Homo sapiens: one gene and its partner. The gene in region 1 interacts genetically with each later gene. Each region holds a gene or a part of one and is shown on either strand. Other genes may lie near its edges. The genes, in order: EIPR1 and RAB10.

Region 1 (3,821 bases):
TTCCACACCCTGCAAAGGGCAAGGCAGCTGCTGAAATGAACTGTCACCCGCAGGCAACACCAACAATGGATCACACCGGCTCTGAGGGCCCCACTAGGCTGGGGCTCACGTTAGGCACTGCCAGGCAATCGGCCCCCAGTCACAGGGCCTGACATAAGGCAGTTTTCCGCTGAGGTTGGGTTTACTGCAGGTTTCTCTTAAGTCCCAAGAGACAGACAGGGAAGACTAAATGTTGGCTGAAACCTACAGGAGGAGAAGGCTTATCACGCAACATTTCAGACAAGCTTTCTAAAATTCGAAAAAAAAAAAAAAATACTGTCCCAGAAGCAACATGTGGATTAGCGATATCCTGTAATATCAAACAAGTCTCACGGCATCTTCCCAGTTGGCAGTGACTGTGGGTCCTGAGACCAGGGCATGGCGGCCTCCCGGGGCACAAGGGCTGTCCTTGGTTTTGGCTACTGGGATCAGCTTTCTTGCTGGCGTGGGTCCTAGAGCCTGGGAGCTTCTGCCTCCCGTCATGCTGAGGCCAAAACAAGCTCCAGGGCCCAGGTGGCAGACAGTGCCAGGCCCTTGACGCTAGGAGGTGCACCCAGCATGGCCAGGGGCACAGGGAGGCCCAGCCACTCAGACCACAGGAAATTCCAGCAAGTCACTGAATTTATCAGAAGTGTGCACTACCAATCCGGGGTTTTAACATACAGCTTCAGATAAGTAATTCAAACAATACAGAGATGCAGGCCATAGGGAGTGAATGCCCCTCTTTGACTTGGGGAGGATTCCTGATGAGATTTTGGCTCTTACTCTTTCAGACATTTCCTCCACATACCTGTGTCACTCACACTTGTGTACACCCGTGTGTGCACACACGTTTTATTTGCATAAAAATGGATTCATGCTATACATGCCATTGTACAACTTGATCTTTTTACTTACTTAGCAAAAAGTACCCAGCACATGAAAAACATTCAAATAATATGTTAGGGAGAATGAGTGACCTCAGAGATCTTCCCACAGCCACATAGAGATGCTCCACATTCTCCCGACAGCTGCATCATCTCCACTGCACGGATGTCACCTAATTTACTTAACCAGTCCCCTAGTGATGGACATTTGGGTGGTTTCCAGGTTTCTGGCATTACAAATAATGTTGCGTGAACATCTGTGCACATTTATTTTTGTATACTTGAACCAGCACTGTTTCAAGAGAAAACAGAATTTAATGTTTTTCTTCTTTTCCTACGTTTATAAATCACAAACATTCAGATTTGGAATTAGTGTTTCTTTAGGAAAAATAAAACTGGGTTGATTGAATGATTCACAGCAGCACAAACTAAGCTGGTTTGTGTCTTTCCCAATGGTAAAGTAATTAGCAAAATCAATTGCGTAATCCCCTCCTCCCTGAAGCAGCCAGGAGCGGCCCTACCAGTGGGAGTGCTCCTCCAGGGTCTTCACGGGTTCGGTGACATTTCGGGTGTCCCAGAACTTCACCTTACAGTCGTCTCCGCAGCTGGCCAAGTAGTACTGCTTATTGGGATTAAAGTCAAGGTCCCGCACCAGCTGTCCGTGGGCATTCTCTATGCAGTAGATCTGGCTGAGGGAGAAGGAAGAACAGCAAAGGAAAATAGTAAATGGATTAGGAAAAGCCACTGCGTGCTGCGGGCACACACTGGTTTCCCGGGACCCTGTCTAATCCCCCGGCCCAGGGTGCTCTCATCCCCTCGGCGTTCCTGCCCTGCAGGAAGAGGCTGGCGCCACCTCCTCCATCCCAGCAACCCTGTGTGGTCGCACCACGCTCATCTCTCCAGAAGCGTATCTGTGACCCTCTGGGCGAGCCGTGGAAGGAATTTTTGCTTTGTAGCCGTCAAAAATGTGACTTGGTATCATCTTGAGAATGAAAGCATGCCAGAGGGGCTGCAACAGCCATGGGGACACTGAGCCAGACATTTGGACAGGATGCCTGACACATTTCTGGAAGGACACAGTGAAGAAGGAAAAGAAAAAGACAGGGAGTTGAGGTAGAATATAGTGTTGGGAAATTTTATATATATATACATACATACACATACAACACAAAATATCTATCTATATATAGAACTATATATATACAGAGAGAGAGAGAAAGGGGGGGGCAGTGGGGAAGGCCATGGAAGCAGGAAGGGGCCGGCTATCTATCTATCTATAGATATATACAGAGAGAGAGAGAGAAAGGGAGGAGCAGTGGGGAAGGCCATGAAAGCAGGAAGGACCATGCCAGCTGGGCTTGCCATTCCACTGTCCACACCAGCTCCAGGTCCAACACTGCTGGTGGCCAGTGCAACCCACTCGCTCCAGGGTGGGAGAAGGGGACTGTTTGAAATGAGTCACACGGCTGTTCACAGTGCGTGCGTTCTCACACTCACGCGTGCATCTGTGTGCACGCCCACACATGTATGTACACACACATGCACACATCTATGCATGAGAGGGCAGACACGCACACACGCACTCACACATCTCACTTTGCCCTGGATCCTATGGTCCTTGGCTGCTCCTCGCAGGGTCTGAAGTCATAATATCCTGCCTATGGCCCTGATGTCATGAATCCCAGAGGGCAGGTCATCCAGTGAGGCTGGACAGTGGCTTGGAACAAAAGGCTGCGCCCAGGAGAGCAAAGAACCCATGGCCTGGCGCTGCCCAGCAGCTCCTACCTGCACGGCCTCCCCAGCACTGCCGTGGGCGGGACTGAAATCACTCCTGCATCATTTACCTTCCTCACCGCAGGCCTCAATGGGGCTGATGAGCAATGGGAAACTTCTGTGCCTTGTAATTTGCTTCCTTTATCTGAAGACCATCATTGTTCTCTGCTCTCCAAAGTAGAGGAACTCAATTCCTTTCATCTTTTTCTCTCACATTAGAACTCCCGGCCCTAAACCACTTTTAAATCTTCTGGTTTTTATATCCTGCACCTTTGCAATATCTTAATATTTCTTCCCTAAAATATAATACCTAAACTTTTAAATCTTTCAAGGGAAACAGGCAAAGGTAGAAAATTTAAAACTTGGCAAATTCCCGGGGAACTAGATGGACAGTCGCACGTGCACGATGTATTAACTAAAGGTTACTGCATGCTCCATCACCAGTAACTGTCACACAAAAGCATCATACCACCTAAAAAAGCACCAAAGGCATCCTGGCTCCATGCAAACCAAAGCTGCTTGCAAAAGGAGAAATGACAGTCAATGAGAAGGCGCCAGGACCCTCTGTGCTGCGCTGGCACGTCCTCACCACAGACACAACACGGGCAAAATGAGGCCACTGCCAGATGTCACCCATCAAAGCCACGGGCATCTTTTTGTTTGCTTATTTGTTTGGTCTGTAACGTCAGTCTTTGAGTTTCTTGTTTTCAGATACTGAAATTCTTCACATCCTTCAAAAAACCATGCAGACAAAGGACACGATGACCACAGGACATGGAGAAATGGATTTCAGCAGGACGTTCATCACGGGCTGAGTCTGTGGTTTCCAGCTTCTGATTAGGAAACCAAACAAGCCCTCTGCACGGACGTGCACAAAGGAGGAAGTGGCAAGTGATTCTTTATTAGCCCCTGAGTTTTCAGAGGGGCCTTGGAACTAAACCTAAAGTTGTGCCCCCACCCTGGAATCAACACGAGTTATTGCATGACATCCGTCTTTTCAGCTCGGTGATAAATTATGGTGTGCTGAGGGGATAAACTGTATCTTAAAAAAGCTTGTGTGGGCTTCCGTTGCCACAGCAACAGACGTGCTACCATCACTCCTTTGCCTATCAAAATCACAACTGGAACGGAAAACTCGCTCTT
Region 2 (3,821 bases), about 23 Mb from region 1:
TTTCTACGGGGGGGAATTTTTAAAAAAGCAATTGGGATTTTGATAGGGATTGCACTAAATCTGTAGATCACTTTGGGTAGTAATGCCATCTTAATATTGTCTTCCAATTCACAAATAATGGCTATCTAATTATTTAGATCTTTAATTTCTTTCAACAATATTTTGTGGTTTTCTGTGTTCAAGTCTTACACTCTTTTGGTTAAATTTACTCCTAAGTATTTTTTGCCTTTTGATATTATTACAAATGGAAATTTATTCTCAATGTAATTTTTAGGTTATTGCTAGTGTACAGAAATAAAGCTGATTTTTATATGTTGATCTCATTTCTTGTAACCTTGCTGAACTTGTTTATTAGTTCTAAGAGTTTTCTGGGTATATGTTTGTGGGTTCTTAAGGATTTTCTATATAAAATATTCTACCATTTATAAATAGTTGTTTCACTCTGGATGGCTTTTTTTCTTTCTTTCTTTTTTTTTTTTTTTTTAGCTCTGGCTGGAACTCAGCATAATGTTGAACAGAAGTGGCCAGAGTAGATATTCTTGCCATGCTCTTGATCTTAGGGGACAGGTACAATAATAGCTGTGGTATTTTTATAGATGTCACTTACAGGATTAAGGAAGTTCTTTGCTATTCCTAGTTTGTTGACTTTTTTTTGAGACAGAGTCTTGCTCTGTCGCCCAGGCTGGAGCACAATGGCACGATCTTGGCTTACTGCAACCTCCACCTCCTGGGCTCAAGCGATTCTCCTGCCTCAGCCTCCCGAGTAGCTGGGGTTACAGGTGTTTGCCATCACACCTGGCTGATTTTTGTATTTTTAGTAGAGACGAGGTTTCACCATGTTGGCCAGGCTGGTCTCGAACTCCTGACCTCAGGTGATCCACTTGCCTCGGCCTCCCAAAGTGCTGGGATTTACGGGTGTGAGCCACTGCGTTTGGCTGACTGTTTTAATCATAAAAGAATGTTGGATTTTGTCAAATGTTTTTTCTGTGTGAACTGAGATAACTGTATGGTTTTGTCGTCTATTAATATGGTGTATTACATTGACAGGTTCTGACCCTTGCATTCCTGGGTAAGTTCCTCTTGATCATGTTATATAATCCTTTAATACACCAGAGAAACAAGATTTCCTCTTTCTTTCTTTTTGAGACGGAGTTGCACTCTGCTGCCCAGGATGGAGTGCAGTGGTGCAATCTTGGCTCACTGCAACCTCCTCCGCCTCCTGGGTTCAAGTGATTCTCCTGCCTTGGCCTCCTGAGTAGCTGAGACTACAGGTGCCCACCATCATGCCCGGCTAATTTTTTGTGTTTTTCATAGAGACAGGGTTTCACCATGTCGACCAGACTGGTTTCAAACTCCTGACCTCAGGTGATCCGCCTGCCTCAGCCTCCCAAAGTGCTGGGATTACAGGCATGAGCCACTGCGCCTGGCCAAGATTTTCTTTTTAAATAACTTCTTTTCTTTTTCAGAGACAGAGTCTCACTCTGTCACCCAGGCTGAAGCACAGTGGTATGATAATAGCTCACTGCAGCCTTGAATTCTTGGGCTCAAGCAATCTTTCTGCCTCAGCCTCCCAAGTAACTGGGACCACAGGTGTACACCACCACACCCACAATTTTCCTTTTTGATACCTGGGTTGTATGTTTCTCAGTTTATCTTGGGAAACAAACCATCCAGTCTACCATGTCAGATGTTTAAGTCTGCGGTATAATAAAAACATATATTAGGTCTTTGTTCCCAGTTCCTGTCACTGACCTCCCAATTTCCTGAGTGACAGGGTTGTCTTTTGTTATTCATAACAAGATTCTTTTGACTATAATGAGTTTATGCTAATGAGGTGACTGATGACAAGGCTCCTATCTAGCTTCAGAATGGGGGCTGGTCTCCAGAGGAACCAACCAAGTGATAAGAGGATTGGAAATTTCAGTCCCACTTCCTGACCTCCTAGGAGGGGAAGGGAGACAGACATTACACTCAATCACCAGAAGTCAATGATTTAATCAATTATGCCTAAGTGATGGAACTTCAATTCAAAAATCTGAAAAACTGAGGGTAAGGAATATTCCAATTCGGTGAACACATCAAGGTGCTGGGAGAGGTGGCGTATCCAGAGAGGGGATGGAAGCTCTGGAGCCCTGCCGCTACTCCCCACATATGCCTCTCTTCCATTTGGCTGTTCCTGAATTGTATACTTTATAATGAAACTGTAATCCCAAGTATAGCATTTTCCTAAGTTCTATGACTCACCCTAGCAAATGATCACATGGAGTGGCATTGTTGGCATCCCCAAAATCTATAGCCAGCTTGGACAGAAGGCAGAAATGTGGGTAAGCCTGGGGACCCAGGACTTGCAAATGGCATCTCAAGTGAGGGCAATTTTGTAGGAATGAGTCCTTAAACTTGTGGAGTCTGATACTAATTCAGGGTAGTCAGTGTCAGAATAGCATTGAATAGCAGGACACCAGTTCATGTGGTAGAATCAGAGAATTGGTGGTTGTTGGAAACACACTGCAGAATCTCTAAACTGCTCTTACTACAGACTACTTACCTGAACAATAAAATAAAGAATAAGGAAATCAAAATAAAGCTTTTTTGTTTTAAGATTTGTATTTTTTTTTTTTTTTGAGATGGAGTTTCGCTCTTGTTGCCCAGGCTGGAGTACAATGGTGCGTGATCTCAGCTCACTGCAACCTCCACCCCCTGGGTTCAAGCGATTCTCCTGCCTCAGCCTCCCAAGTAGCTGGGATTACAGGCATGTGCCACCCCACCCAGCTAAGTTTGTATTTTTAGTAGAGACGGGGTTTCTCCATGTTGGTCAGGCTGGTCTCGAACTCCTGACCTCAGGTGATCCGCCCACCTCGGCCTCCCAGAGTGCTGGGATTACAGGCGTGAGCCACCGCGCCCAGCCAAGATCTGTGTATCTTTAAATAATTATTAAAAAATAATAAGCTTCTCCCAAAGATTTATTGTAGCAACAAAACAGTGGTAATGAGCCCTTAGGATTGCTACCATTAGGGGTATTATCTTGGGTCTAATATTGGTTTAAGACTTGGTCTTTGTGTATCTGGCCAAAATTTGCTTCAAAGAGTTACTGTTAACAAAACTCAAAGCCTAGAAGGTAGCAATAAGGCATGAAAAACAACTCTTAACAAGAAGCCACCTATGCTGTAGCAAAGAAACAGACATGCTTTGATACATAATTTTAACTTATAAAAAGTAACATCAGGCTGGGTGCAGTGGCTCATGCCTGCAATCCTAGCACTTCAGGAGGCCAAGGTGGGCAGATCACTTGAGGCCAGAAGTTCAAGACCAGCCTGGCCAACATGGCGAGACCCCATCTCTACTACAAATACAAAAATTAGCCGGGTGTGGTGGTGCACACCTGTAATTCCAGCTACTCAAGACACTAAGACACTAGAATCACTTGAACCCAGAAAGCAGAGATTGCAGTGAGCCAAGATTGTGCCACTGCACTCCAGCCTGGGTGATGAAGTGAGACTCTATCTCAAAAAAACCCAAAATACAGAAAAAAAAACAACATTTTCACATGCAATGGAACTATTTTCTTAGTTAGGTTTTTACTATATTAGTATTCCATATATTTCAAAATGCCTAGAAGCAATATTATATTTCTATAACATGAAAAATAAAGTTTTAAAAAATTACTACCGGACATTTCATTCATTCAATAAAAATTTATTAAGAAAAAATTCATTTCCAGAAAATCATTGTAAAATCACTGGTAGCTTCTATTTGGGGTCATCTTGTAAGATGGCTATACAGAGTTTTGGAGTAATTTACTAATTGTCTTGAATGGGGCTCTA

The links.
Region 2: changes in EIPR1 (region 1) and RAB10 are lethal when combined (synthetic lethality), as found in Homo sapiens cells (one study listed by BioGRID).

Annotation. Positions count from the first base shown.
Region 1 is NC_000002.12:3,192,573-3,196,393, forward strand, and holds part of EIPR1 (EARP and GARP complex-interacting protein 1), read right to left. Parts: intron 1,595-3,821; coding exon 1,427-1,594; intron 10-1,426; coding exon 1-9. UniProt on the Homo sapiens protein: Acts as a component of endosomal retrieval machinery that is involved in protein transport from early endosomes to either recycling endosomes or the trans-Golgi network.
Region 2 is NC_000002.12:26,110,407-26,114,227, reverse strand, and holds part of RAB10 (ras-related protein Rab-10), read right to left. Parts: intron 1-3,821. UniProt on the Homo sapiens protein: The small GTPases Rab are key regulators of intracellular membrane trafficking, from the formation of transport vesicles to their fusion with membranes.